Linked DNA regions of Homo sapiens: all the other regions are linked to region 4. Evidence: fine-mapped expression QTL. A gene starts in region 4. Each other region holds a variant in brackets. All regions are shown on one strand. Distances are from middle to middle. Region 1 overlaps ATG16L1 (autophagy related 16 like 1). Region 2 holds the start of UGT1A7 (UDP glucuronosyltransferase family 1 member A7). Region 3 holds the start of UGT1A8 (UDP glucuronosyltransferase family 1 member A8). Region 4 holds the start of ATG16L1 (autophagy related 16 like 1).

The links. PIP is the estimated chance that this variant, and not a neighbour inherited with it, causes the effect.
Region 1: its variant is fine-mapped to the expression of ATG16L1 in whole blood (TOPMed, PIP above 0.99).
Region 2: its variant is fine-mapped to the expression of ATG16L1 in transverse colon (CEDAR, PIP 0.95).
Region 3: its variant is fine-mapped to the expression of ATG16L1 in stomach (GTEx, PIP above 0.99).

What each region holds. Positions count from the first base shown.
Region 1 is chr2:233,281,213-233,289,212 of GRCh38, reverse strand. It overlaps ATG16L1 (autophagy related 16 like 1), which reads right to left. Exons shown (of 18, transcript NM_030803.7): 12 at 6,460-6,531. It also overlaps SCARNA6. Among named protein-coding and RNA genes, the nearest start is that of SAG, 23 kb to the left of the region's middle. RefSeq lists an enhancer at 28-529. The variant T/C (reference allele first, on the strand shown) is at 4,585.
Region 2 is chr2:233,675,370-233,683,369 of GRCh38, reverse strand. The region is part of intron 1 of UGT1A8 (UDP glucuronosyltransferase family 1 member A8); the gene reads right to left. The region is part of intron 1 of UGT1A10 (UDP glucuronosyltransferase family 1 member A10); the gene reads right to left. All of the region lies in intron 1 of UGT1A9 (UDP glucuronosyltransferase family 1 member A9), which reads right to left. UGT1A7 (UDP glucuronosyltransferase family 1 member A7) reads right to left here and starts at 1,469. Exons shown (of 5, transcript NM_019077.3): 1 at 578-1,469. The coding sequence starts at 1,432. It also overlaps UGT1A. The variant A/G (reference allele first, on the strand shown) is at 4,285.
Region 3 is chr2:233,612,314-233,620,313 of GRCh38, reverse strand. UGT1A8 (UDP glucuronosyltransferase family 1 member A8) reads right to left here and starts at 2,681. Exons shown (of 5, transcript NM_019076.5): 1 at 1,752-2,681. The coding sequence starts at 2,606. It also overlaps UGT1A. The variant C/T (reference allele first, on the strand shown) is at 4,840.
Region 4 is chr2:233,248,669-233,256,668 of GRCh38, reverse strand. It overlaps ATG16L1 (autophagy related 16 like 1), which reads right to left and starts at 4,996. Exons shown (of 18, transcript NM_030803.7): 1 at 4,727-4,996; 2 at 474-567. The coding sequence starts at 4,841. RefSeq lists an enhancer at 4,709-5,408.

The DNA.
Region 1 (8,000 bases), 33 kb before region 4:
TAGCACCAAGCTTCACGTGCTCCCCATCCTCAATCTTGAATTTGAAATCAGCTCTACCACAGATACCTGCTGTACTGTTTTTGTAATTTTTCTATGTCTGAATTATATCAAATTAAAGAATTTTTAAAGCCTCGATGTTGCGCCATGCTGCTGAAAGTCAGTTCCATATTTAAAGTCAGACTAGACAAGGTCACCACAGGCATAATTTACAAAAGGAAACATCAGGACTCCTTATGTAAACAATTAAAACCCCTGGGGGATTTTCAATCAGAGGTCTCAGCTTGAACAAGGCAGATCATAGCCACAGATACCAGCACTCCCAACAATCAAATCCCTTTGTGACTAAGCTGTTGGATGCCAACCAGTGTCTTCCCTGAGCTCACGGAGGAACACAGAATGAGGGACATCACGGAGTGTCAGCTGCCCTTCTGCCCATCGCAGCACTTCTGAAGTGCGATGGAGGAGAGGCAGCTGGGGATAACTGGGATGCCGGGAGGGGATCTGAGGACTCAGACCTTTTACCATTCATCATTGACCTCTATGCAGTGCATGATCAACATTTTTCTATGTGTAAAACACCAGAGGTTCAGAAGGTATTCACTGATGTTTTCTTTCTAATTAGAAAATGCAAGGGTTGGCAAAGTGGCTCACACTGGTAATCCTAGCACTTTGGGAAGCCAAGGTGGGAGGATTGCTTGAGCCCAGGAGTTTGAGACCAGCCTGGGGAAATTAGTGAGACCCTCATCTCTACAAAAAAATTCGAATTAGCTGGGTGTGGTGGGTACTTATAGTCTCAGCTGTTACAGGGGAGGCTGAGGTGAGAGGACTGCTTGAGCCCAGAAGGTCGAGGCTGCAAGGAGCCCAGATCATGCCACTGCACTCCAAACCTTAGTTCCCAAAGATGAGACCTCATGGTTCAGGGTTAGATTTTTTTTGTGTTAACATTTTTGAAACCAATCCTTCCTCTATTTTCAGTGGGGTTAACTCCACTTTAGCACAGAAGCGAAAACTTCGGACCACATATACTCCCCTCTCAGCTTCAATGAGGGAAGCTTGTATGAGTTCTCAGACTGCCTTATCCCACATTCAAACCTCTGAAACTGGGACAGCATCTTACAACTGCTGCCAGTCGGGTGCCGGCTGTGCTGCGGTTGTGTGAAAACCTCCCACTGATCCTTCCGTAAGATCAAGAAAGCTCCAGTAACAAAGCCTACACTAGATACAGTCCATGAATAATGATTCCATTCAATATAAAACATCCACTCTGCACAAATCATGGGCAGAGACAAAACTTGGGTAGGCTACTTCTTAAATTCTATCTTTTTTTCTTTTTTGAGACAGAGTTTCACTCTTGTCACCCAAGCTGGAGTGCAGTGGCGTGATCTCAGCTCACTGCAACCTCCGCCTCCCAGGTTTAAGTGATTCTCCTGCCTCAGCCTCCTGAGTAGCTGGGACTATAGGCGTGTGCCACCACATCCAGCTAATTTTTGTATTTTTAGTAGAGACGGGGTTTTACCATGTTGGCCAGGCTAGTCTTGAATTCCTGACTTCAAGTGATCCGCCTGCCTCGGCTTCCCAAAGTGCTAAGATTACAGGCATGAACCACTGTGCCCGGCCTTACATTAAATTCTGAATAACTATTTTATCAAAATTTCAAATTTGTATTTATATTCACTATCTGTTTCTTTCTTAATGTTAAGAGTAAAATCACATTTCACAAACACAGGGTAGAAAAAGACATTGTTCATAAGTGGGATATGGCAAGTACAGATGATCCTCAACTTATGATGGGGCCAGTCTTGACAAACACATTGTAAGATGAAAATACCCTACATTGGGGACCATCTGTATATTCATTTTTACATACTTCACAGGAACATGTTAATCTTTACACAATTATACTCTTCCTAAAAATTTATCCATTACTCTTTTAAGCTTATAGCGTAAGCATTTTTTCATGTGATAGCTGAAAATTCATGGGCTTTGGGGTTCCACTGATTTGAACACCCTGGGTCTCTGTAACATCTGTGAACAGGAAACATCCTTGTGCTATCTTAGTACGGACTCAGCAAGATGAATGGGATCAAATCTCTTCCTTGTTGCACCTCCCTTTCTTTAAGAGTCTGTCACAGATGCTGTTGCAGTGAACATCTATGAGCACACAGCTTTCTTCTCTTGACTTATTTCCAGGAATGAAACTGCTGAACTAATGGAATAAGGGAAAGGGACGTTTTGTTTCTTGGCTCCTCGTACGTATTGTCACCTTGCTCTTTACAATGTTTGGGCTTGGCCAGGCGCGGTGGCTCATGCCTGTAATCCCAGCACTTTGGGAGGCCGAGGTGAGCGGATCACAAGGTCAGGAGATCGAGACCATCCTGGCTAACACGGTGAAATCTCGTCTCTACTAAAAATACAAAAACTTAGCTGGACGTGGTGGCGGGCGCCTGTAGTCCCAGCTACTCGGGAGGCTGAGGCAGGAGAATGGTGTGAACCCAGGAGGCAGAGCTTGCAGCGAGCAGAGATCACGCCACTGCACTCCAGCCTGGGTGACTGAGCGAGACACTGTCTCAAAAAAAAAAAAAAAAAAAAAAGTTTGGGCTTCTGCTCACCTTATTCTCAGTGAGAATAAGCTGGAGCTGCCTGAGGCTGACTCACTGTCTCGGTGCTTCCAATGGTATAGAGCTGGGCCTCCTACAGGCATTCATTCACCTCTATCATTTATAGAGTCCTTTGAAATGGATCAGATTTAAAATTCTTCTATCTGTTAGGTGTTTCTGAAATTCATTTTTATGATTAACAACACTTTTAGGTTTCATCTTCTACTTTTAAACAGGGATTAACAATAGCGGGGCAGCGGGTTTAGATGTCATCAAGGCCGGGGCCTCAAAGTGGGGAGGCTTCAAGATTTCTCTGCTCCACTGGGCTCTGCACAGACTATCTCTGTGCCTCATGGCAGATAACGAGTGCCGACCCCTATTTCTAAACACAAAATTGCTCATTCAGGTAACAACTTAATCATGCAGCTAACATAACACCAACCAAAGACAGCCGATTCCAGAAGAATGCAGAACTCAAAGAGGAACATTCCAAACAGAAACCATCACCTAGCAGCCATAGCCAATCCTCACTGTGGCCACTTCACCACACCACGAGAGAAGTGGGCAGGGGGGTTCTCAAGCAAGTTTCTCAAGTCAAATCTTACCAAGCAGCCAGGCAGTTTTGTACTGACTTTAGATTTTTAACGGAGGCATCACAGAGGACTCCTTTCAATGCCAGGTTGTTTCTAGGGTGCATTTACAAAAAGGATGTTAAAGCAAGCACTCAACCAGCTGCTTCTTGTTTGCCAGTCTCTCCCAACACCATTCCCTTGTCGTAAGAGCAAAGGAGACACCGAACAGGGCATGGATGTCTGTGAGTTTCACAACATAGATGAATGGATTCCTGTCCTCCAGTACCATCTGTTAACTGGGGTCTAAAAAAAAGCCAGCACTCCCTAGAATAAGGAGCCTATTTTACTTTCTGGAACCTGGTAAGGTTTTCGGGAGACTTCTCTGGGTGCAGGGAATCTGCTGAAACAGGCCTCCCAATCTTCACACATTTACCAAGTAACAGGACAAGGTTATGAGCAGGCCAGAAACTCAAAAGCCAACTAGTCCAGCACAGGAGGCTCCTGCCCCAGCACGGCATCATCAGAAGCAGCAGCCCAGCAGCCTGCGCCCTGCTCCAGCATACTGAGAACATTTCCCCAGTGAGACCTGTGTGCCAGCTCAATGTTATGACCTTCATCTGTCAGTCTAGCTCCCTGCTCTAGGTCCCCTTCTTGTTATTTCTGACCCAAAGGCTGATGCCCACCTGTATAGGACTCCTCTATTACCAATTAAAAAATATCCTGCACTACTGGTTGACTCAACTTCTTCCTCTTCTCCTCTAAGGGACTATCATAAAAAAAAGGCTGTAGGCCCCTCTTCAATAATTGGTCAGTTTTACTGTATCTCAGTCTAGAATAAAAGATCAATGGATAGATAAATCACAGTATACCACAGGATGGATTAGAACGTAGCCATGAGTACCGGCTAGGCCATCTTTTCCATGTGTACAGTACAGAACTACAGGGCTTCAAATGACCCTATTCAAGCATCTGAATTGGTGTGCCCCATGGCAGGCTCTCTAGCAGTGCACTTCCCTAGTCCGTCATTAAGACAAGAACATAGGCTCCTCAGCTCTCACAACATGTCCTTGTCATCGTCAGGGCTCGTTATTTTGCATGTTCGGACCTGGATCTTCTTTAAATTGTGAATTAAGAATGACCACCCCTGAGGTATTGGCTAGCATCTAATACTAATAATCTATACAACCCTCTCAAGAAAATCACCAGAAACCCACCTAATATACCATTCTACTACAGCTCCTCCACCTCCCTTGTAGATTTAAGAAATTCATCTGGGCCAGGCGTGGTGGTGCATGCCTGTAATCCCAGCACTTTGGGAGGCCGAGGCAGACGGATCACTTGAGGTCAGGAGTTCGAGACCAGCCTAGCCAACATGGGGAAACCCCGTCTCTACTAAAAAAATACAAAAATTGGGC[T/C]AGGCGCAGTGGCTCAGGCCTGTAATCCCAACACTTTGGGAGGCTGAGGCAGGTGGATCACGAGGTCAGGAGATCGAGAACGTCCTGGTTAACATGGTGAAACCCCATCTCCATTAAAAATACAAAAAAATTAGCCAGGTGTGGTGGCACGTGCCTGTAGTCCCACCTACTCAGGAGGCTGAGGCAGGAGACTGGCGTGAACCTGGCAGGTGGAGCTTGCAGTGAACCGAGATCATGCCACTGCACTCTAGCCTGGGCGACAGAGCAAGACTCCATCTCAAAATAATAAATAAATTTAAAAAACGAAACAAAAATTAGCCGGGCGTGGTGGAGGATGCATGTAATCCCAGCTGCTTGGGAGGCTGAGGAAGGAGATCACTTGAACCTGGGAGGCAGAGGTTGCAGTGAGCCGAGATCACGTCATTGCACTCCAGCCTGGGCAACAGGCTCCATCTCAGAAAAAAAAAAAAGAAAAAAGAAATTTAGGCTGGGCACGGTGGCTCACGCCTGTAATCCCAGCACTTTGGGAGGCCGAGGTGGGTGGATCATGAGGTCAGTTCAAGACCAGCCTGTCCAAGATGGTGAAACCCCATCTCTACTAAAAAAAAATACAAAAATTAGCTGGGCGTGGTGGCGGGCGCCTGTAATCCCAGCTACTCGGGAGGCTGAGGCAGGAGAATTGCTTGAACCCAGGAGGCAGAGTTTGCAGTGAGCCAAGATTGCGCCATTGCACTCTAGCCTGGATGACAGAGCAAGACTCTGCCTTCAAAAAACAAAAAAAGAAATGTATCTTGCTGGGCACAGTGGCTCACGCCTGTAATCCCAGCACTTTGGGAGGCCAAGGTGGGCAGATCCCTTGAGGTCAGAAGTTCAAGACCAGCCTGGCCAACATGGTGAAACCCCATCTCTACTAAAAATATAAAAATTAGCCATGCCTGTAATCCTAGCTACTCAGGAGGCTGAGGCAGGAGAATTGCTTGAACCCAGAAGGCGGAGGTTGCAGTGAGCTGAGATCACACTACTGTACCCCACACAAGAGCAAAACTCCATCTCAAAAGAAAAAAAAAAAGAAAAAAAATTCATCTTAACATTACTTCCTCTGTTTTTGGTGTGGGTTGACACACACAAACGGCTTGTGTTAACTTTTTAAAAAAAAATTTTTTTTTTTTTTAGTAAAATGCCTACTAATGCCAAATTCATCCTCCATTATATCTTTCAATAGCTTGTATTTAATAAGCTTATGTGATGATTCCTTCAGGCTTATGGGGAAAAAAAATGTCTGCAAATTAAGTTACATGCTTCGCCCTCCGCCCCCTGCCCCAATCAAAAATGATACAACCAAGTTTTGGTCTCTCTGTCAGATGCCAAGAGAATTCTTGGCAAGTTTTGGTTCAAATGCAGCTTTCCTCAACATCCAATCATTTCTCCCTGCTCTGACACCTGTCCCCTCTTTCTCAGCTTGGAGTTTTTGTTTCAGAATTGTCTTATCCCTATGATACATCCATTTGTACTTCTATATCCCACTTTAGGTAATTAGGTTTTAGAGCCCACAGGAATCACAATTCACATGCTGTTGCTAAGTTCTGTGCCATTAAGCCAAAATTGCTATCTACCAAAGTATTTAGTCCTTATGAAGAGTATTCCAAGGTTTTCATGCAAATGTGAGGGTCCCATTGCAAATATTTTGAAACTGAGTTTTGGACAAAGAGTATAAAGTGGAAACACAGATTTCCCCAAGGAGGAAAGGAAGGGCAGGGTGAATCAAGCATGATTTTTGGGAAAACAAAGTCCCCTAATTAAGCACCTGCCAGTTTGTGCCTTGATAACACCACATGAAGTTTGGAGATTGCACTAACTTTCTTAACTGGGTCTTACCCGTAATCGATAATCATCCACAGTCCAGATTCGGCTTGCAAAATCATTTGAAGCTGCTAAGAGGTAAGATCCCTGTGGGAATAAAGAAGAGGAAAACCAATTTTTAGCCAAATCAGAGGAATTCAGTTCACACGATATAAATTCCCCAATAATCAAGTACAAGAAGGTTTAGATGCTTCACCCTATACAACCAGCCTGAATACCAGCTACTGTCGTGAGTGTGCTTCAACTCGCCAGTCTCCTTCGAGTTCAGACCTTTTTTTTTCTGAGCTTGCTCAATTTCATCAGAATATTGCAGACACCTCAAGCTCCAAATGGAACCCAGCCTTCCCTACTCACTTTTCCCTTGGCAACCTTCACTAGCAGCAAATATTAACAAGTCAGAAACCTCAGAGGCACCCTTGACTCTCTCCTTGCCTAATCTCCCAACTCTCACTCTGAGAACTGTTCATCTTCAATGTGTCGAGCCTGGTCCTCTCCTTTCTCCCCTATTTCCTCAGCCCCCACCTGGGCCTTCTGCATCTCTGCAGAAGCACTGAACGCACGGGCCACTGCAGACCTGCTTCCTCCAAGCCAGTCTTCAGCACTGTCACAGTTCCACCACAACTTAACACCATACCCATTTCTAAAAATCTCTCAAGTCTCCACATGGCTTTACAAAAGTCTAAACCTTTCAATACAACATACCCTCATTTTCCAACCTTATTTCCTTATCATTCCCCAATTAAATTCAAGGAGTGGTTATTTAGAACCTAATAGGCACTGTGCCAGGTGCTGGGGGTACAAAGATGATTAACGCCCAGACACTTGTCCTCAGGTAGTCAGCTCTCAGCTTAGTAAAAGAAACAGATATAGACCACCACCGTGCCATAGAATAGGTTTGCACAAGATGCTGGGAACATAGACACTCAGCCCACCCAGGAATGTGAACAAGGCTCCCCAGAGATGACAATCAAGATAAGGACTCTTGGTAGATGAGGACGCTACCTTGGCCTCACCCAGTCATCACCTCCACCCAAGCTCCTGCACTCGCCCAGCCCAACCTCCTCTGCTCCCTCTGCCTGTGGTGTCCGTCCCTGGCTTTTTGCCTCTGACCTTTGATTATCTTTAGATCTGCTTTAAATGCCTTACTATGGCCCCTAACCCTTGCCCCAGAATGAGCTACTCTCTCATCAGTATTTCCTTTCTACTCCACACACATCTCAGCCATAACTCAGCACAACGCTTTGCAGTTTAATGCTTTCCCATCACTCTCATTTAGATGGCGAATCTCGGAGGGTAGAGACCACGCTGGCCCCTGGAGTACAGCATCTATACACTCAAAATACAACTATTAAGTGAAATTATACAAAGTACTGAGTAACATCACAAGCCTAATGCATGAAGCAGAACCCAAGGGTTTATCAGAGTTGATACAGCAATTAACCCTATAATCTATTTCCATCTTTCTTTAACATGGATTTGGCTTAAGATACAGAGAATGGCAGAGAAATCGGGTAAGTTATGTTATAATTTCAAGAACCTAATGTCTTAAATTATTT
Region 2 (8,000 bases), 430 kb before region 4:
AACTACATTGCATCCAAAGTAAAGACTACCATGCAATTATTAAAAGAACATGTCAAATCTGTATGCATTGACCTGTAAAGATATCTTTAACTTATTGACAAGAGAAAAATCTAACATAAAAAAACATAGCCAGCATGATAGTAGATTTTATATTGATAAAATAGAAGTGACAATTTACCCTAAATATATGCATATACATAGTATAATTTCAAAAAAATTGAAAACAATTCACACAAAACTGCTAAGAATATTTTCCTCTGGGGGTAGTGTAGAATTAGCAAAAAAAGGGAAGTTTCATTTCTTACTGTGGTTTTTTTGTATTTTTCCAAAAATAGCATTTAGATTGCAGCCTAGATATGATCTACAATTATATCAATTGTATACACTTACATATCAACAAGAGCTGCTTTATACAATTTGCTACCCAACAATTAAGTGAATTGGTACAAAAGAATTCCTTAAACCAGAAAGAAATTCCAAATGGGACAAATGTAAATGATAAATTATGATTCTGTAAGAAATCTTTTAATTTCCAAAGCCAGATTATTCTTAATGTGCTAAAGGGGAGATAACTTACCATAGGCACTGGCTTTCCCTGATGACAGTTGATACCACCAATGAAGATCATATTGGGCATCACGGGTTTGGGATACTCCAAAACAAAGTCAGTTCGCAACAACCAAATTGATGTGTGGCTGTAGAGATCATATGCCGTGACAGGGGTTTGGAGAATTTCAGAGGCTATTTCTAAGACATTTTTGAAAAAATAGGGGCAAAATAAATGTTCCTCCAAGTGCATGATGTGGTTCCATACTCTCTCCTTGAAAGTCATGGCGTCTGAGAACCCTAAGAGAAGTCTGGGGACATAGGAAAGAGGAGCAGGGCACTGTGCACCTTCTTCAAGATAGTGGCAAAATATTCCCCTGGCGAAGACCACAGAGGGGAGGGAGAAATATTTGGCAACAATTAAGCCACAGGCATCAAAAGGATCGAGAAACACTGCATCAAAACAACTCTCCTTTAAGTATTCTACTAATTTTCGGTCATTAAACAAACTCCTGCAATTTGAAAAAAATAAGTCAAAAATACCATTGGATGAACTTGTTAATAGAGAAAATGCACTTCGCAATGGTGCCGTCCAGCGAGCATCGGCAAAAACCATGAACTCCCGGTCCTGATCCTCCAGAGTGTATGAGGTTGAGTAAGTCTTCACTGTGCAATTCAGTGATCTTCCCAGTTGCCAACTCACCTCTGGCATGACTACGACCACCTCATGCCCCCTGAGGATGAGTTTCTCCACCACCGACTGCATGGTGAACCAGTGGCTCCCATCCATGGGCACTACCAGCAGCTTCCCTGCCTTGGCAAAGCCACAGGTCAGCAGTAGACACACATATAGGGGAAGGAGGCCAGTCCACCCTGCACGAGCCATCAGAGAACTTCAGCCCAGAGCCAGCAGCTGGGATTCTAAGCTCCTATAATATAGTAAGTGGAAGAAGTACAGATAGAACCTGCCCTCAAAAGAAGGCGTGTACTTATTCATTCATTTAAAAAAAAATTCACATTCACTGCCAATGATTTACTCATAATAATACATGAGTAGCCTTTGCTGAGATACCTGCTTATATGTTTTCAAGAAAAGAGTAACTCATCATCTTTGCCTTGGGGACAGATCATGCCCTGTGCTGCAATATGAGTTTAGAAACAAAATTATTAAGCAATGCTTTTGGCCTTGACGACATTGAAAGATAAAAAGGAAAGTAAATTTGAACGAAGCTAATAATTTTGGAATTTGTCACAAAGAAAAATTTGCAATTTTTTTTTTTTTTTTTTTTTTTTGAGATGGAGTCTCACTGTGTCATCCAGGCTGGAGTGCAGTGGTAAGATCTAGGCTCACTGCAACCTCCACTTCCTGGGTTCAAACGATTCTCCTGCCTCAGCCTCAGTAGCTGGGATTACAGGCGCACGCTGCCATGCCCAGCTAACTTTTTGTATTTTAGTGGAGACGGGGTTTCACCATGTTGCCCAGGCTGGTCTCGAACTCCTGAGCTCAGGCAATCTGCCCATCTCGGCCTCCCAAAATGCTGGGATTACAGGCGTGAGCCACTACACCTGGCCAAAGTTTATAGACAATTTTTATTTTGTCCTCTGCCCAGAAAGAAATTGGCATCTCATGTTCGACGGAAAGAGAGCAAGGGTCTTAGCGTTGACCTCCTAACTGGGAGGAAATTGCGGCTCACCTGTGTCTCTGCAATACACAGCTCACTTGCGCATTGCAGAGACACAGGTGAGCCACAATTGTGACACAGGTGAGCCACAAGTGCTGCTTGTCTTTTTTCATTTCCAAATCTTCTGAGGCCTCTGAAATGCTGTAATGAGATTGACAACCCTGCCTCCATGGACCCTTCCAGAAATTTGATGGAATGTGACTGTCACCTATTTTAAATGGCTTTCCTCAGATACATTGTCTGCAGTGGTGAGTCGCCGTCCCTATGCTTGCCCAAGCACTCTAATGAGCTGTCTCTCTCTGCCCACTCTGCTTCTGCATTCTGAACAGAGCTGCAGGCCTTTGCTATGGGCCCACCCCAATCACTTTGGTGCTCATCTTCAGGAATCTATGTATTGTTTCCTCCATTCTACCGAGCACCCCTTGAGGATGAGATTACATCTTCTACCTGTTTTCATCCTCCTTCCACAGCACCCATGCTTTGCCTTGCACAGAGGAAGTCCATGGGAATTCTCATTGCATTGGGCTGAATTCCATCATGCAGATTTTAATGGGTGAGCTCAGCAGTGTGTGTTAGGCAACACACTGAGGAGCATTTCGTGAGGGATTCAACAGCCAACCTCAGGGCATAATTCTTGTAGAAGCACAAGATGGTTCCTTCCAGGACACCCTAACTGGTACTAGACATTTGCTTAGTCACTTTCCTCTAGTACATACTACACTACTATAATAATTTTGTTGCTACCTCCTGTTGCTATTGCAGGGAGCTAAAGTGTGGCCTAAATGCATGTGATATGACGTTTATACCCTCTGCGCGTTTCTTCTCTCTAGTAAATTGCATGTCAGAGTAAAAAATGATCTCTTATGGTTCTACTGTATTTTTCATCATGTTTAGTGTAATTTTTTAAACCTTGAATACCACCATGGGACTATAAAGTGCAACTAATGATGCTGCAAGTACTCCCAAGAAGCAAAGAAAAATCATGACATTACCAAAAAAACTTGAATTACTTGATAGGTACCGTAGATTGAGCTCTGCCGCTATGATTGCCTGCCATTTCAAAATCAATGAAGATAGATAAGGACCATTGCAAAAGAAAGAAAGAGAAAAAGAAAAAAGAGAGAGAGAGAAAGAAAGAAAAGAGAAGAAAAGATTCATGAAGACATTGCTGCAGCTATGCCAGCAGGAGCCAAACCTCGCATCTTTTTGTGAAATACATTTTTGTCTCATATTGAAAATGCAACTTTAATGTGGGTGTAGGATTGCTATAAGAAAGGCTTATTTATAGATGCCAATGTGATTTGAGAAAAATTAAAGTCATTTTATGACAACTTAAAGCAAAAGAGAGGTGAAGAATCTAAAACTGGAGAATTTAATGGCAACAAAGGATGGTTTGCTAGTTTTACAAAGAGGTTTGGCTTTAAAATTGTCCAGATAACAGGAGAACCAGCCTCTGCCAAGCAAAAGGAGGCAGATGAGTTCCCAGATGCCATGAAGAAAAGCATTGAGGACAAAGGATATCTGCCTGAACAGGGTTTTAATACAGATGACAGTGCCCTATTCTGGAAAAAACAAAAACAAACAAACAAAAAAAAAGATGACACAAAAGACATTTATTGGCAAGGAAGAAAACCAAGCACCAGAATGTAAGGCAGGAAGGGATAGGCTAACTCTACTGTTTTGTGTAAATGCAGTCAAGTTTACAGTCAGGACTGCCCTCATCAGTAGAACTGCCAAACCTCAAGCCTTGAAAGGAAAAGATCAACACTCACTGACAGTTTTATTGTTGTACAAAAAGAAGGACTCAACAATAAGAACGCGTTTTCTGGATTGGTTCCATCAAGGCTTTGTCCGTGAAGGCAGAAAATGCATTGCCAGCAAGGGACTGTCTTTTAAAGTTCTTTCGATATTGGACCATTCCCTAGCCACCCAGAACCCACAAGTTCAACACTGAAGGTGTCAAAATGGTCTACGTGCTTCCAAACCCAACATCTCTAATTCAGTCTCTCAATCAGGTGTCTTAAGGAAATTTAGAACTCATTACACACAGTTTTCT[A/G]TGGAAAAGGTTGTCAATACTATGGAAGAGAATCTGGATAGAGAATGTCATGAAAGTCCAGAAGGATTACACCACTGAAGATGCCACTGTTATTATAGAAAGAGCTTTGAAAGCCACCAAGCCCCAAACAGTACATTTCTTCTGGAGAAAACTGTGACCAGATGTTGCACATGACTTCACAGGATTTATGACAGAGCCAATCAAGGAAGTCATGAAGGGATTATGGATACAGCAACAAAATGTTGGGGATAAGGTATTTCAAAATATGACTCTTGGAGAAATTCAAGAGCCAATAGATGCCACACTCAGGGAATCAATAGATGACCTGATAGAGATGAGTGCTTTCCAATCAGTACTTGATGAGAAAGAAGATGTAGAAGAAGCAGTGCCAGAAAAAAAATTGGCCTTACACAATACAAGCCTCATAGAAATGCTTCCAATTATTTAAGACTGCTATTGACTTCTATTAAGACATGAACCCTTATGGGCACTGAAACTAAAGCAAATGGGGAAGAAGGATTAGTACTGTATAAAAGCATTTTTAAATACATCAAAGAGAAAAAAACAGACAGTAATTATGATGTATTTCCATAAGGTTACACCAAGTGCACCTGCCTCTCCTGCCTCCACTTCCACCTCCTCTACCTCTTCTGCCTCTGCCACCCTGAGACAGCAAAATCAACATCTACTCCTCCTCCTCCACAGCCCACTCAATGGAAGATGATGAGGATGGAGACCTTTATGATGAATGACTTCCTCTTATACATACTCAACTTTTATTTTAGATTCAGGAGTACATGTGCAGGTTACCTGAGTATATTGTGTGATGCTGATGTTTGGGGCATGATTGCTCCCATCACCCAAGTACTGAGCATAGTACCCAATAGTTTTTCAACTCTTGCAGCCTTTCCTCTCCCTTTTAGGAGTCCATAGTGTCTATTGTTGCCATCTTTATGCCCAAAAGTACCCACTATTTAGCTCCCATTTCTAAGTGAAAACAATGGTATTTGGTGTTCTGTGCCTGTATATATTCCCTTAGGGTAATGACCTCCAGCTGCATCCATGTTGTTACAAAGGACATGATTTCATTCTTTTTTTATGGCTGCATATTCCATGGAGTATGTGTTCCACATTTTCTTCATCTAAGCCACTGTTGACGGGCACCTAGGTTGATTTCATGTCTTTTCTATTCTGAATAGAGCTGCAATGAACATACCAGTGCATGTGTTTCTTGGTAAAACGATTTTTTTTACATATATCTAGTAATGGGATTGCTGGGTCGAATGACAGTTCTGTTTTAAGTTCTTTGCAAAATCTCCAAACTACTTCCCACAGGGGATGAACTAATTTGCATTCCCACCAAGAGGGTACAAGTGTTCCCTTTTCTCAGCAGCCTCACCAGCATCTATTATTTCTTGACTTTTTAATAACAGCCATTCTAACTGGTGTGAGATGATATCTTATTGTGGTTTTCATCTTCATTTTTCTGGTAACTAGTGATGTTGAGCATTTTTTCATATGTTACGTTTTTTAATAACATTTTCTTTTCTCTAGCTAGCTGCATTGTCATAATACAGGATATAATACTAATAACATACAAACTATGTGTTAATTGACTGTTTATGGTATTGGCAAGGCTTTTGGTAAACAGTTGGCTATTAGTAGTTAAGTTTTTGGAGAATCAAAAGTTCTATGCGGATTTTCTACTACACACGGGTTGGTCCCCTTCATTCCCACATTGTTCAGGGGTCAACTATACTAGCAATGAACACTTGAAAACTGGATTAAAAATACCACTTAAATAGCATCAAAAACATGATATACTTAGGGATATATCTGACAAAGGATGTGAAAGACTGTACATTGAAAACTACAGAGCACTGATGACGGACCTAAATAAAAAGATATGTTAATGAATTGGAAAACTCAAAATTGCTAAGATGTTGTTTCTCCCCAGTTGATCTATAAATAAAATACAATCCCAATCAAAATCCTAGCAGGATTTTTGCACACATTAATGAACTTATTTTAAAATGCATATGGTAATGCAAAAGACCTCCAATAGCAAAAGCAATTTGAAAAAAAAAATTAGAGGTAACACTACCTCATTTATAGATTATTACACAGCTATAGTAATCAAATATTTCACAAATAGATCAACAGAACAGAATACAAAGTCTAGAAATACGTGCACAGATGTATGAACAACCAAGTTTTTACAAAGGTACAAAGGCAATGCAGTGGAGAAAAGGTTCTGTTTTTCTACAGTTGAATATTCACACGCAAGAAAACAAGAAAAGACCTCTGTGTCTTCCTACCAAAAGTCTATAAACCCAGTTTTACCACGATGAAAACATCAGGCAAAACACACACTGACATTCTAGAGGAACATTCTACAGGACACCTGACTAGGACTGCTCGAAACTGCCCAAGTCACTAAAAACAAGGAGAGTCTGAGAAACCGTCACAGGCTGGAGGAGACAAAGGAGACATGATGACTACATTTCAGGTGGTATCACTGGGATCCCATAAAAGAACAGGGAAATTAAGTAAAAATTAATGAAATCTGAAGGAAACAGACTTTAGCTTTTAGCTCATCATTATGCGTCAATATTGGTGAATGAGTTGTGATGGATGTGCCATAGAAACATGAGATTTAACAATGGTGGAAACTGGACACAGGGTAGATGAAAATTCTCTAAACTATTTGTTGTAACCTTGCTATAATCCTATATTTATTCTACAATGAAGTATTTGTAAGAAAAGTCACTCAACAGACTGTGAGAAAATATTTGCAGGACCCCTGTGGATGCACACAGGGGTGATTCATCAGTGAATTCATCATCAACCATGCTTCTGATGAATCCATCGGTGAAGGATTCATCAGAGGCATGGTGGGAGGTGGCTGGATGATTTCCACAAATGGTTTTGGAGTCTGACGCTGGAGCTCAAGGACCCCAGGGTGGGTCTTCTGTTGAAAAGACTATTCTTTCCCATTTGAATGATCTTGACACACTTGTCAAACTTTGGCACCTAGTCAATTGGCCAAGGATGTATATGTATGGGTTTATTTCTGAATTCTCCATTCTATTCCATTGATCTGTATGGAAAGATGTTGTGTGAGACAATCCGGGGAAATTTTATTATGGACTGTAAATGAGATAATATTAAAGAATTTTTATTGTCTTAGATATGATAATGATATTGTGGCTATGTAACAAATTTTTCTTATTTTTTATATTAAATGAATTGTTCAGTGATGGAATGACATGCCAAGAATTTCTTTTTAAAAACATACAAATTTATTTTTAAAAGTTTTCTTTAAAAAGATAGAATAAAGGGATAGATGAATTAGTAGAGCAAAATAGTGAAAATTATTTAACCTAAGAATGGATAAGTGGGTGCTCATTACACTGAGTCTCTCCATTGTGTATGTTTGAAAACTTTGAAAATAAAAACTTGAAGTAAATAATTTTAGTGGGAGGCCTTAGTCTTGTCCACCAAAAGCTAACTTTGAATTTGGATCTTGGACTATAGCCAGAATCTTACAGCAAGGGGGGAAGCACAGATCTCTTATTTATCTGTAACCATATCCCACCCCCAGAGCCGCACCTGCCATGGATGGTATAGACAAAGCCTGAATTCTTTTCACCTAAAACCAGTCATTAATTCTGTTGGAACTCATCAAAAATTCAAAAAGACTAGGGACCTCCTCT
Region 3 (8,000 bases), 360 kb before region 4:
AGTGCTTTGATACGTCCAACCTCTTAGAGTCCTGCAACTTGCATCTCTTCACCTGATCTTGCCGTGAGCTGAAAGTCATGCCTAATTTTGAAAGGCCTACAACTGTAGTCTTCCTGCTTTTTAGAAAGAGCATTATTTCACTTTCCTGTGAGATGGCTGAACGGTCACTCTTTCACCAACCATCTGCCAATGACAGATATGACTGTTACAAAGTCTACTGAACCTTATAAGAAGCCAGAACAATAGACAAAAATGTATACTCCATCCCTAATAAAATAATATAATGAGATGAGACACCAGGTGTTTCATCTGGATTTAGCAACTATGCGTTTGCCAAGAATCTTATTCTGGTATTTTTCAAGGATTTTTCAGTCACAAGCTACCAAATCCCTATTTAAACTGGCTACTCTAACAATATTACTCAATAATGTTTTGGAAGTATATGCTCCAGCAAAGCAAAAGAAGCAGTATAAATATCAGAGAAGGGAATTACTTGCAGATGGTATTGCATATTGTACATCTAATGCATACTACAAAATAATAAGAAAAGTTAGTAATGTGGCTGGATACAAGATACATACGCAAAAACCAAAACTTTAATTACCAATAGTCAGTTAATTGTAGAAATGGAAAAATTACCCTGTAAAAAAATAGTTTCAAAAATCATAAAATGCCAAGGAATAAATGTTAATAACAAACATAAATGCTTATATAGTGAAAATTTTTATTTATGTATATAAAACAAGACCTGAATAAATAGTGAGACACACATATTCCTGAACAGGAAGATATAATAGCAAAAAGATGCCAATCTTCTCAATTCAGGAAAACCCTCTAACCCTACATGTAGGACTCTAGTCTACTAAGATAAAAGCAAGAATATAGAAATATATTCACACAAGGAAATTATTAAAGAATGTTTACACAGCCTTATTCATAAAAGCAAAAATGGAAAATGCCTAAACATATATCAATATTAATTGGTTTAAAAAACTACATAGCATCCAAAGTAAAGACTTTTATGCAATTATGAAAAGAACTTGTCAAATCTGTCTGTATTGGTGTATAAAGGAATCTACAATTTATTGGCAAATAAAAAATGCAAGGTAAAGAAGAATATGTCCAGCACAGCATAAAAGTTTATTTTAACAAAATAGGTATGAGAATTTACATTAGATATTGCATATAAATGAAACTTTTTTTATACTGAAAAGAATATACACAAAACTGATAAGAGCATTTCCTCTAGGGGTCAGAAAACTTAGGAAAAAGGGGAGTTTCATTTCTTGCTGTGGTTTTTGGTACTTTTCTAAACACGGTACTCAAAAACGTGGGCTAAATATGATCTATAATTTTTAAATTAAATATATACACCTAAAATACTTTTTTTAATGAAAAGAATGTATGCAAAACTGCTAAGAGCATTTGCTCTAGGGGGTCACATAGAATTAGCAAAAAAGGAAAGTTCAATTTCTTACTGTGGTTTTTGGTACTTTTCTAAACATGGTACTCAAAAATGTAAGCTGAATACGATCTACAATTTTTAAATTATATACACACACCTTCAAGAAGGGCAGTTTTATAAAATTTGATAACTGATGAGTACATAAATTGGCACAAAATAATCTGTTAAACTGGAAAGAAATTTGAAATGCAACAAATGAAAATGTCAAATCACAATTCAGTAAGGAATCTTTTTTTAATTTCCAAAGCCAGATTATTCCTAATGTGCTAAAGGAGAGGTGACTTACCATAGGCAATGGCTTTCCCTGATGGCAGTTGATACCACCAATGAAGATCATATTGGGCATCACGGGTTTGGGATAGTCCAAAACAAAGTCTGTTCGCAACAACCAAATTGATGTGTGGCTGTAGAGATCATATGCTGTGACAGGTGTTTGGAGAATTTCAGAGGCTATTTCTAGGGCATTTTTGGAAAAATACTGGCAAAATAAATGTTCCTCCAAGTGCATGATGTGGTTCCGTACTCTCTCCTTGAAAGTCATGGCATCTGAGAACCCTAAGAGAATTCTGGGGACATAGGAAAGAGGAGCAGGGCACTGTGCACCTTCTTCAAGATAGTGGCAAGCTATTCCCCTGGCGAAGACCACAGAGGGGAGGGAGAAATATTTGGCAACAATTAAGCCACAGGCATCAAAAGGATCAAGAAACACCGCATCAAAAGAACTCTCCTTTAAGTATTCTACTAATTTTCGGTCATTAAACAAACTCCTGCAATGCGAAAAAAATAAGTTAAAAAAACCATTGGATGAACTCAGAAATAGAGAAAACAAACTTCGTACTTGTGCTTTCCATTGAGCATCGGCGAAATCCATGAATTCCCGGTCCAGATCCTCCAGAGTGTATGAGGTTGAGTAAGTCTTCACTGTGCAATTCAGTGATTTTCCCAGTTGCCAACTCACCTCTGGCATGACTACAACCACCTCATGCCCCCTGAGGATAAGTTTCTCCACCACCGACTGCATGGTGAACCAGTGACTCCCATCCATGGGCACTACCAGCAGCTTCCCTGCCTCAGCAAAGCCACAGGTCAGCAGCAGAGAAACACATAGGGGAATGGGGCTGGTCCACCCTGTGCGAGCCATGAGAGAACTGCAGCCCGAGCCAGCAGCTGGGATTCTAAGCTGCTATGATACAGTAGGCGGAAGAACTACAGGCACAAAACCTGACCCCAATAGAGGGCGTGTATTTATCCTGTCATAAAAAAAAAAAAAATCACACTCACTGCCAATGATTTACTCATAAGAACAGGAATACATGAGTATCATTTTTTGAGATACCTACTTGTATGTATCTCATAAGAGTACTATAAGAGTAGCTTATAGTCTCTGCCTTGGACAGATCATGCCCAGTGCTGTAACGTGAGTTTAGAAACAAAATTACTAAGCAATGCTTTAGGACCTTGAAGATTCAGAAAGATAAAGTGAAAGTAAATTTGAATAAAGCTAATATTTTTGGAATTCATCCCAAAGCAAAATTTAGATTTTAACTTTAGCCAACCAAATACTCTCTGTCCAGAAAGAAATTGGTATCCTATGTTCCAAGGAAAGACAGCAAGGCCCCTTAGCACCGACTTCCCAGCTGGCAAGAAATTGGGGCTCACCTGCATCTCTGCAATGCATAATCATTGCTGGTTGTCTTCTGCCATATCCAAACCCTGAGAGGCCTCTGAAATGCCGAAATGACATTGACAACCCTGCCTCCATGGACCATACCAGGGACTTGATGGAAAGTGACCATCACCTATTTTAATGACTTTCCTCAGATACATCACATGCAGTGGGGAGTCTCTAGCCCAGTCTTTGTGCGAGCACTCTGCCGGGCTGCCTTTCTGTGGCCGCTCTACTTCCACATTCTAAACATGCCATCAATCCAGTGCCCTCCTTCAGGAAAATATGTACTTGTCTCCCTCAGTCTACTGGGCACTCCCTGAGGTCAGTGGTGATGTCATCTTTGTGTTTTTACCCTCCTTTCACAGTAGCCATGCTATGCCTTTGATATAATTTGTATGTTTGTCCCCTCCATATATCATGGTCAAATATAATCCCCAGAGTTGAAGGTGAAGCATGGTGGGAGATGTTTGGATCATGGGCATGGTTCCCTCATGAATGGCTTGGCACTGTCCTCCCAATAGTGAGTGATTTCTCAGGAGATCTGGTTGTTTAAACGTATGTACCAAAAACACTCTTTAGGATATTATCCAGGAGAACTTCTCCAGGCTAGCAAGACAGGCCAACATTCAAATTCAGGAAAAACAGAGAACACCACAAAGACACTCCTCGAGAAAAGCAACCCCAAGACACAGAATCATCAGATTCATTAAGGTTAAAATGAAGGAAAAAATGTTAAGGGCAACCAGAGAGAAAGGTCTGGTTACCCACAAAGGTAACCCATCAGACTAAAAGCAGATATCTCTGCAGAAACCCCACAAGCCAGAAGACAGTGGGGGCCAATATTCAACATTCTTAAAGAAAAGAATTTTCAACCCAGAATTTCATATCCAGCCAAACTAAGCTTCATAAGTGAAGGAGAAATAAAATCCTTTACAGACCAGCAAATGCTGAGAGATTTTGTCACCACCAGGCCTGCCTTAAACAAGAGCTCCTGAAGGAAGCACTAAATATGGAAAGGAAAAATGAGTACCAGCCACTGCAAAAACATACCCAGTTGTAAGGACAATTGACACTATAAAGAAACTGCATCAACTAGTGGGCAATATAACCAGCTAGCATCATAATGACAGGATCAAATTCACACATAACAATATTAACCCTAAATGTAAATGGGCTAAATGCCCCAATTAAAAGACACAGACTGGCAAATTGGATAAACAGTCAAGACCCATCGGTGTGCTGCACTCAGGAGACCCATCTCACGTGCAAGACACACATAGGCTCAAAATAAAGGGAGGGAGGAATATTTACCAAGCAAATGGAAAGAAAAAAAAAGCAGGGGTTGCAATCCTAGTCTCTGATAAAATAGACTTTAAATGAACAAAGATCAAAAAAGACAAAGAAGGGCATTACATAATGGTAAAGAGATCAATGCAACAAGAAGTGCTACCCATCCTAAGTACATATGCACCCAATACAGGAGCACCCAGATTCATAAAGCAAGTTCTTACAGACCTACAAAGAGACTTAGACTCCCATACAATAACAGTGGAAGACTTTAACACCCCACTGTCAATATTAGATAGATCAATGAGACAGAAAAGTAGCAAGGATATTGAGGACCTGAACTCAGCTCTGGATCAAGCAGACCTACTAGACATCTACAGAATTCTCCACCCCAAATCAACAGAATATACATTCTTCT[C/T]ATCACCACACTGCACTTATTCTAAAATTGACCACATAATTGGAAGTAAAACAGTCTCTCAGACCACAGAGCAATCAAATTAGAACTCAGGATTAAGAAACTCACTCATAACCACACAACTGCATGGAAACTGAGCAACTTGCTCCTGAATAACTACTGGGTAAATAATGAAATTAAGGCAGAAATAAATAAGCTCTTTGAAACCAATGAGAACAAAGACACAACGTACCAGAATCTCTGGGACATGGCTAAAGCAGTGTTTAGAGGGAAATTTATAGCACTAAATGCCCACAGGAGAAAGCAGGAAAGATCTAAAATCAAAACCCTAACATCACAATTAAAAGAACTAGAGAAGCAAGAGCAAACAAATTCAAAAGCTAGCAGAAGACAAGAAAAAACTAAGATCAGAGCAGAACTGAAGAAGATAGAGACACAAAATATTTTCAAAAAATCAATGAATCCAGGAGCTGGTTTTTTGAAAAGATTAACAAAATAGATAGACCACTAGCCAGACTAATACAGAAGAAAAGAGAGAAGAATCAAATAGACACAATAAAAAATGATAAAAGGGAGATCACCACTGATCCGAGAGAAATACAAACTACCATCAGAGAATACTATAAACACCTCTATGCAAATAAACTAAAAAATCTTGGAGAAATGGATAAATTCCCGGACTCATACACCCTCCCAAGGCTAAACCAGGAAGAAGTCGAATCCCTGACTAAACCAATAACAGGTTCTGAAATTGAGGCAGTAATTAATAGCCTACCAACCAAAAAAAGCCCAGGACCAGATGGATTCACAGCCTAATTCTACCAGAGGTACAAAAAGGAGCTGGTTCCATTCCTTCTGAAACTATTCCCAACAATAGAAAAACAGAGACTCCTCCATAACTCATTTTATGAGGCCAGCATCATCTTGATACCAAAACCTGGCAGAGACACAACAACAACAACAAAAAAGTTCAGACCACTATCCCTGATGAACATCAATGGTGAAAATCCTCAATAAAATACTGCCAAACCAAATCCAGCAACACATCAACAAGCTTATCCACCATGATGAAGTTGGCTTCATCTCTGGAATGCAAGGCTAGTCCAACATATGCAAATCAATAAACGTAATCCATTACATAAACAGAACCAATGACAAAAAACACATGATTATCCTCATAGATGCAGAAAAGACCTTCAACAAAATTCAACAGCCCTTCATGCTAAAACCTCTCAATAAACCAGGTATTGATTGAACATATCTCAAAATAATAGGAGTATTTTATGACAAACACACAGCCAATATCATACTGAATGGGCAAAAGCTGGAAGCATTCCCTTTGAAAACTGGCACAAGATAAGGATGCCCTCTCTCACCACTCCTATTCAACATAGTATTGGAAGTTCTGGCCAAGGTAATCAGGCAAGAGAAAGCAATATAGGGATTCAAATAGGAAGAGAGGAAGTCAAATTGTCTCTGTTTGCAGATGACATGATTGTATATTTAGAAAACCCCATCATCTCAGCCCAAAATCTCCTTAAGCTGATAAGCAACTTCAGAAAAGTCTCAAGATACAAAAATCAATGTGCAAAAATCACAGGCATTCCTATACACCAATAACAGAAAAACAGAGCCAAATCATGAGTAAACTCCCATTCACAATTGCTACAAAGAGAATAAAATACCTAGGAATACAACTTACAAGGGATGGGAAGGACCTCTTCAAGGAAAACTACAAACCACTGCTCAAGTAAATAAGGGAGGACACAAACAAATGGAAAAACATTCCACGCTCATGGATAGGAAGAATCAATATCGTGAAAATGGTCATACTGTCCAAGGTAATTTATACATTCAATGCTATCCCCATCAAGCTACCATTGAATTTCTTCACAGAATTGGAAAAAAACTACTTTAAAGTTCATATGGAACTAAAAAAGAGCCAGTATAGCCAAGACAATCCTAAGCAAAAAGAACAAAGCTGGAGGCATCACGCTACTTGACTTCAAACTATACTACAAGACTACAGTAACCAAAACAGCATGGTACTTGTACCCAAACAGATATATAGACCAATGGAACAGAACAGAGGCCTCAGAAATTATGCCACACATCTACAACCATCTGACCTTTGACAAACCTGACAAAAACAAGAAATGGGGAAACGATTCCCTATTTAATAAATGGTGTTGGGAAAACTGGCTAGCCATTTGTAGAAAACTGAATCTGGACCCCTTCCTTACACCTTATACAAAAATTAACTCAAGATGGATTAAAGCCTTAAACATAAGACCTAAAACCATGAAAACCCTAGAAGAAAACCTAGGCAATAACCATTCAGGACATAGGCATGGGCAAAGACTTCATAACTAAAACACCAAAAGCAATGGCAACCAAAAGCCAAAATTGACAAATGGGATCTAATTAAACCAAAGAGCTTCTGCACAGCAAAAGAAACTATCATCAGATGGAACAGGCAACTTAAAGAATTGGAGAAAAGTTTTGCAACCTATCCATCTGACAAAGGGCTAATATCCAGAATCTAAAAGGAACTTAAACCAATTTACAAGAAAAAAACAACCCCATCAAAAAGTGCGCAAAGGATATGAACAGACACTTCACAAAAGAAGACATTTATATGACCAGCAAACATATCAAAAACAGCTCATCATCACTGGTCATTAGAGAAATGCAAATCAAATCCACAATGAGATACCATCTCATGCCAGTTAGAATGGCGATCATTAAAACTCAGGAAAGAACAGATGCTGGAGAGGATGTGGAGAAATAGGAACACTTTTACACTGTTGGTAGGAGTGTAAATTAGTTCAACCATTGTGGAACACAGTGTGGCGATTCCTCAAGGATCTAGAACCAGAAATATCATTTGACACAGCAATCCCATTACTGGGTATATACCAAAGGGCTTATAAATTATTCTACTATAAAGACGCATGCACACGTGTGTTTATTGCAACACTATTCGCAACAGCAAGGATGTGGAACCAACTCAAATGCCCATCAATGATAGACTGGATAAAGAAAATGTGGCACATATACAACATGGAATACTATGCAGCCATAAAAAAGGATGAGTTCATGTCCTTTGCAGAAACATGGATGAAGCTGGAAACCATAATTCTCAGCAAACTAACACAGGAACA
Region 4 (8,000 bases):
CACTGCAAGTTGGGGACCATTTGTATGTTGAAAAAAACACCAACCTAAAAAGGATCAAATAGACCCATACTGCAGGAAAGCAATTTTTACGTATGTGCCAATCAATCCTACATTAACAGGATCTACACAAACCCGCTCAGAAATACTTGTCTGTGATTATTTAAAAACAAAGAAACAAAAAAACATGAATCCTGGCAGGTTAGATGAGAAACTGACCTAGGGTTACCACGTGAACCTGCCTTAAGAAATTTCTCAAGCTCAGAGCACTGTACTGATAATAACCTTTCTAGGTATGACATACCTTCTAAAAAACAATTGTAATTACATGGTTTTAGTTCTTATTTGAAAGGAGCTGACAAAAACTGGAACACAGAAATAGTACTTGATTTGCTTTTAAATTAGAGAAGTGACAACTGAACTGAGATAAATTTCCTTAGAGGAGACATAAATAATACAAGTTAGTTTCAAAATACCTTATCTCGTGCCTGTTTGGTACGTCATGCTTTTCAGCCTGTAGTTTCTGGGCCAACACTGAATGAAGATCTGACTTTTCCAGCAATTTGTTATCTATTAAAATAAAAAAGTCAGAAACTAAGTTATTTATTACAACGTATGTACACTTGCTAGGTACCTACCTTGTCATGTATTGAAGGATGCAATACAGGAACATACATTCCTCAGCCACAGTAACCTACAGAATCACCTGCAAGAATGTCTTCCCTATTAAAGGGAGCTGAAAATGCTTTCTACCCCAGAAGTTATTTGTTTCTACCTTGGGAGGAAAAAAGAAAAACACACTAAACACAATGGCAAAGTGAAATGCTATGTACCTTTAAGTAAGACAGGAGAACTTTACCATAAGTTGACATATCTAATTACTTTTTAGGTCAGGGAACTAGAAATACAAATGACAGTCTCCAACATGGAGTTAACATTTAATTCAGTCAAGTATAAAAAGGTACAGAGAATACACTCTGTACTCATTTTTATGAATGGTGTCACAGGAGGTGATATATGAGTTAAGTCTTAAAAGAAGATGATGGGCCATGCAGAAGGAATAACAGAGTCTTTTGGTAAGTGGCTGGAAATAAAGGTTGGAGCCAACACAGGAAAAAGCAGGATCAGAAATTTAGACTTCTTACTGGCAATGATTAAATAAAAGATTATAAAAGCAGGCCGTTACGCTAACAGATCTGTATTGGTAAAAAGTCAAGGATTATTCTGAGGCTCCTCGCTCAAGCAACTGGGCGGAGGATGCTAACGTGTGAGAGAACACAAGAGGGGAGAGCTTAGAGAGGAAATGAGTTCTCTTTCCAAACATAATAAATTTGACAGGAGACAGAGTACAGAAATTCAAAACACAAGATTAGAAAGAACACGTAGTTAAGTGTAATAGGCACACAGGCCTATTACTGTGGCTCACGCCTGTAATCGCAGCACTTTGGAAGGCCAAGGAAGGCAAACTACCTGAGGTCAGGAGTTCGAGAACAGCCTGGCCAACACGGCGAAACTACTAAAAATACAAAAATTAGCCAGGCACGGTGGCACTTGCCCACAGTCCCAGCTACTAGGGAGACTGAGGCACAAGAATCGCTTGAACTCGGGAGGCAGAGGTTGCAGTGAGCTGAGATCGCGCCACTGCACTCCAGCCTGGGCGACAGAGTGAGACTGTCTCTAAATAAATAAATAAATAAATAAACAAATGAAATGAAATAAAAAATAAGAGTAATAGGTACACAGGCACCAGTAAGATCAGATGTGGGTACCTGTTCTGCAGGTACCAAGCAGAACAAGACAGGGTTTATGCTAGTGACTATTCCTGTTAAAAGAGCTTGTTTCTCCTTTTAAAGAGTTTTGAGTCCCACTTTTTGATACCTGAAAAGAGAACTCCTGGGTAGAAACACTCTCATCTATTGGTCAAACGAATTAGCCAAACTGGACATTGGTTTCAACCTGGGAAATTATGGTTTAAAATCCACCAGTGTCAAAGGGCTCTAGTAAGACCTTCAGATGTTAAACCAAAGCTTAGTGCCCTGTGATAATTTTAGGTTCTTTCAAAAAACACAGGCGTTCAAAAGGAGTCCTTCCCAAAGGTTCCTCCCTGAAGAGAAGGCTGGAGATGGAGGGAAGCCTTTCCCTCCCCCTACGGCTTCTTTCCACCTTTCTCTTCAGACTCAAAGGCACGGACTGAACAGAGAATAGACTCCAGGCTGATGGAGGGTCAGAGCTTGACTGGCCTGGGAAGGCTGGAATGAGTGGAATGAAGGTGTTTCACAAACTATAATAGAAATGATCTCCCTAAATGTCAATCCCTCTGCCTAAACAGAAGATCTTAACATGCAAAGCCTGTCTCACTCTCCTGCCTCTTGTTAGCTTCTCATCCCGGTCTCCTGTCCTGGTCCCTCAGGCAGGTATTACTCGCTACTCTAGCACCCTTTAAAGCTATCTGCTCTCCACAAGTGACCTCTTATTCTGACTGTTCTACATGCTCCTGCCCCATCAAGATGCCATTTTCAAAGTGCAGGAAAACATTCCATTTGTGTCAAAGAGATAACGCTTTACAATTACAAGCTATTATACAGATGGCTTTGAAAGCACTTATATGCACAGCACTGTTTTTATGAAGTGGGCAGGGCAAGCTTCATCCCCATTTTATAGATGAGGCAAAACAGACTCAGAAAGTAAGTGAAAATGTTCAGTGAGGGGTGAGTCAAGCCTCCCACCCAATTTGACTTTCAAAGGATATTAGCTTTTAAAGCATAAGCACCTAATAAGCACCTAATGAACTGATTTATGTCATCTGTCAGGGAATCATGTTTTGAGGAAGAGGGACTTCTTGTGCTTCTGGCTTTCTGAAACAGCACTGTTCTTCAGGGCCTCCTAGAACAGCAAAGCATCCTCTTTCTTCTTAGTTTTGTTAAAACAATGGGTGCAGTGAAAGCAAAGAACCATTTGCTGGGGGAGCCAGTGAGAAAAGCAAATGCAAAAGTTAGTCATCAAGCCTAAGTTCAAATTCCAGTCCCGGCTGGTCACTGTGGCTCATGCCTGTAATCCTAGCACTTTGGGTGGCTGAGGCAGGTACATCACCTGAGGTCAGAAGTTCAAGATCCGCCTGGCCAACATGGTGAAACCCTGTCTCTACTAAAAATACAAAAATTAGCTGGGCGTGGCGGTGCTTGCCTATAGTTCCAGCTACTAGGGAGGCTGAGGCAGGAGGATCTCTTGAACCTGGGAGGTGGAGGTTGCAGTGAGCTGAGATCACGCCACTTGCACTCCAGCCTAGGTGACAGAGCAAGACTCTGTCTCCAAAAAAAAAAAAAAAAAAAAACAAAAAAACCCAGTCTCACCATTAACCTGCTGTGCAACCTCAGAAGTTACCTAATCTCTCTTGGCCTCAGTTCCATGTGTGAAAATGGCAATAACAGTTCCTGCTTCATACACAGAATTTTGGGAAAGATAAAATAACACATGCAAATACTTACCACAGTACTAAAATTTGTCTGCACAGTAGTCATTTGGGAAGCATCAAAAAACACTGATAACTTGGCATGCAGTTCTAGGCTTAATCTCACACAAACACAAACACACACACACTGATACTTGTGTACTGTGATACTTGTGATTTAGTTGGTCTGGGGTGTGGCTTGGGATTTGTAATTTTTTAAAGATCCATAGGTGATTCTAATGTGGAGCTAAGTTTGAGAACTACTGATTTTGCACAATCAGAATGCAATATAAGGTAGCAATTATTATTCTGAATATCATCAACAGCATAACTTGAGAAAGTCGTCAGGTTTACTTTCAGACGCAGATGGAACCACCTTAGGACCATTATAATTTAGGTAAAGGTACAAACATTTTTGTACCCTTAAGCTGCAAGCAGTAAGGGGAAAGAAAACCACCTCTTTCATACTGAAGATTTCAGTAACAGTAAAGGTTCTGTCCCGCCTAAAAGATATTACGATATTAACACCAAGGTGGGGCCGGGCTCGGTGGCTCACGCCTATAATCCCAGCACTTTGGGAGGCCGAGGTGGGAAGATCGTTTGAGCGCAGGAGTTGGAGACCAGCCTGGGAAACACAGTGAGACCTCGTTCCAAAAAATTTTTTTTTAAAAAAATTAGCCGACCGTGGTGAAGCGCGTCTGTAATCCCAGCTACTCGGGAGGCTTAGGTGGGAGGATCACTTGATCCTGGGAGTTTGAGACTGCAGTGAGCCGTGATCTCCGCCACTGCACTCCAGGCTCGGCGACACAGCAAGACCCTGATCCCCTATCCCGTTTCCCCGCAAAAAAAACCACCAAGGTGGAGTAAGGGAAGTAAGTTTGAGGAATCAAAGGCCACCCGTTCCAGTGCATTGAGAAGGCAATGTTAATTCTGCGACTGAAAGTCAACGACCGTTTCATTAACATGACCCCATAGATGGGATGTTTCTGGGACCTATTTAAGTGCATAAGCATTGTATGAGCTACTGGGATTTACAAATACAAACACGAACTGTGCCTCCCCACAAAGATCGTACAATTTAATAGGGAAAATCCTCCAAAGATAAAACGCAGGTTAGAAAAAACATTTAAAAGGCGTGCGGCGTCCCAAGCGCGGGTTACCCGGGGCGGCCGCCATGCGTGCGGGCGGCGCCAGGGACTCGGCCTCAGGTTCCCGCTGACGCCCCGCATGCCTCCGCGGGGCCCGCCCGCCCCACTCCCAGCCCGCACCGGCGCCGCTCACACTGCAGGATGATCTCCTCGAACGCCTGTCTCTGCAGCCGGTCCCGGCGCCTCAGTTGCTCCGAGATGTGGCGCTTCCAGCGGGGGAAGTCAGCGGCGCGGAGGCCCGACGACATGTCACTTGCTGCCCCGGCACCTCAGCGCCACCAATGCGAGCGAGGGCTGACGGCCGCAGCCTGCAGCATGAAGCAACCAGCAGAAGCGGGAATGCCGGCAATCCCGGAGCTCACCTCCACACACTGGCAGTCCCCGAGGCCATCCGGGACGGTCTTCCGGCTCATGCCGGAAATGATTTTCGAGAGGGCCGGAAGACCCGCCCCCTCACCCGAAGCACGGGCTCAGGAGCCGGTGCCTACGCAGGGCGCTCGCTAGTGACGCCAGCCTGTAGCCGGAAGCGTCAGCTGCAGAGAGGTGGCCGCTTGGGGGCGTCCGGGCCCTGCGCAAGGCCCAGCGCCGGGCGGGAAGGAGGCAGGAAAGGGGCCGTTTCCGCCTGACTGCTTACTTTTCTTTTGCTGCTTTTCAACCCTTTTCGTGTTTTTTTTCTTGGCCTGTCTCCCCCCACTTTTATTTTTAATCGCAGTTTAGGAACAAATGGGGTTCCCTCCATAGTAGCTCTGTGGCTGTGGATGAGTGACAGCCTACCTAAGCCTCAGTTGTCTCATCTGTAAATGGGGACAGTAATGATACCTACCTCAGAAGGTTGTCACGAATAGTAAAAAGAAAAACCCATGTAATGCAGTCAGCACTGTGCTTGGTACAGGGGAAACCTAAGTTTACAAAGACACCTGGTGTCTTCCCAAGGCCTACCCTGACAGCAGGAGCATTGCCATCTTGGACAACTGCCACCATTTTAAGTTCCCCTTGATTAAGAAACTGCCTAAATCCAACCCAAAAACATCAGCCTAATGGCTAATGTCAGCATAACCAGAAACATTCCAACCCTAAGATAAACCCACTTCCAACCAGAAACATGCCAACCCAGAGATAGCCTCCCCTCCGGCCAGAGACTTTCCAACCCTGCAATAAACTTTCCCTCATACAGAAACATTACGAACCTGCAATAAGCTCACCGCTTCGTAAACCCTTAAACACCCTTAGTGTGTAAGAGAAAACGCTCCTGACCAAAATCGACAAGAAGCCCCTCTCAGGTTTATTCTCCAAAATAAACCTGTCTTTGATTGTTAAGCTGCTTTTCGTGTTTCTTTCTTGTTTCTTAACTCTTACATACCTGAAGTCAGGGTGCGTTGGGAAGAGTGTCCCACTGAACTTGGAAACAGGTTTTGTGGTTTGTTTGGGGTTTTTGTTTTTGTTTGCAATGGAGAAGAGAACTGGAAACGGGAGCTAAGAAAGATGTGAATTGTGTATCAGAGTTTGTCTTCATTGTTAGAATCCTAGAAATTGTGGCCTGACAATAAATGGAGCCTTAGAAGGTAATCTGAGGCTGTAGATGTTGAAAGGGGGAGATGAAGACACACTGGCTCCTGAGAAAGTTGTGTCTGTGAACAAGCTCAGTAGAATGGAAAACCCAGTTCTGTAATAGAGTTGCTGGAGCTCCATCTGCCTTTAACAATTAGTGAATTTACTGCATGAAAATGGAGCCAGACAAAGTAGTTGGCCAAAAGAGGAAAGGAATATCAGAAACTACCTTCTCTTCCAGTGTGTCTCAAGTCCAGAGGAAGGTCCTTCAGAGACAGATAAGAAGAACTTAGGCTGAGGAGAGGAGGACAGTCAGGCTTCTAGCACTGTAGTTGAAGATGGTTCACTGGTAGTCAGTATTGAGTGGACCTGAAGTCGTTGGAAGGATCCAATGGGATCAGAAATAGAAGTGACTTCCTCACACGCTGAAGAAAATGAAAAAGTTCTGAAAGTGACCGAGAATGCCTTCAAATGCAGCAGTGGCACCACCCTTAAAAGACCATTACACCAAATCTTGACAGTTGAGCATGTTAATTTCCCACATTTATGATTAAAATATGTTTCCAAGGTTGGGCATGGTGGCTCACACCTGTAATCCCAACACTTTGGGAGGCCAAGGTGAGAGGATCACTTGAGCTCAGGAATTTGAGACCAACCAGCCTGGGCAACATGACACAACCTGTCTCTACAACAATACAAAAAATTAGTTGAGTGTGGTGGCGTGTGCCTGTAATCCTAGCTACTGGGATGGGGCTGAGGTGGGAGCATCGCTCGAGCCTAGGAGGTCAAGGCTGCAGTGAGCTGTGATAGCACCACTGTGTTCCAGCAGCCTGGTCAACAGAGCAAGACCCTGACTCTCTCTCTATATATATAAAAATATGTTTACAAATTTGCAGTTTGCCTAACCAGCAATTCCACTTGCAGGAATTTATGCCAAGAAATATTTGGACACATGTCCACATACAAAAATCTTTGTTGCAGAATTGTTTTTAGGTTGGTGTAAAAGTAATTGCGGTTTATAATAATGATGAGAAGTTGGAGAAAAAAATCTACATTTCCAACAATAAGAGATTGGTTAAATTACTGTACATTTATTGCTGGAAATTGTTGATAGTAACAGCAGTATATGTCATAATTTATGTAAAATGAGTATGTCCCTAGCTCATCATAGACAAATATTTGTTGAACACATGAAGAATAATTTCTAAAGAAAGAATATGAAGCTCTGCTAGTCCTGCCCTCCTCCTAACTCACCAGCTTTATCTAGCACACAACCACAGCCACGCTGAAGCCTCTTACTTCCTTCTGCTTACCGTGCTCCCTCTCGTTGCAGGGCCTTTGGATTTACTGTGTTGGGCACATCTTCCCTTCTGACTTCTCCAAATTAATTTCTGTGTGTTCGTTCTCATTTCAGTAGTCACTTCCTCGCAACAGTAGGATGAGAGACCTTCACAACCTGTTACAGATCTTATCTCCCTGTTACGCGTGTACCTCTCCTTTATAGCATTGATCCCAGTTATAGGTTCACATGTATTTGTATCATTACTTGATAAAGGTCTGTCTCCCCCAGTAGACTGTAAACTCCATGAGACAAGAGCTGTGTCTGTTTTTGCACATCATTATATCTCCAGCAAGAGCATGAAGCCCTTTATGTATTAGGTGCTCAGTAAATGTTATTTAATTAATGAATGGAATATGTGAAAATACTGATAATAGTATTATCTGTAGGCAGTGGTGTTGCTGGGTTTTTTTCTTATATGTGTATTTTATATGCATTTTCTAATAGGTAGACATTATATATATATATACTACATATGCATGAAAAAGTTGGGCCGGGCGCGGTGGCTCACACCTGTAAT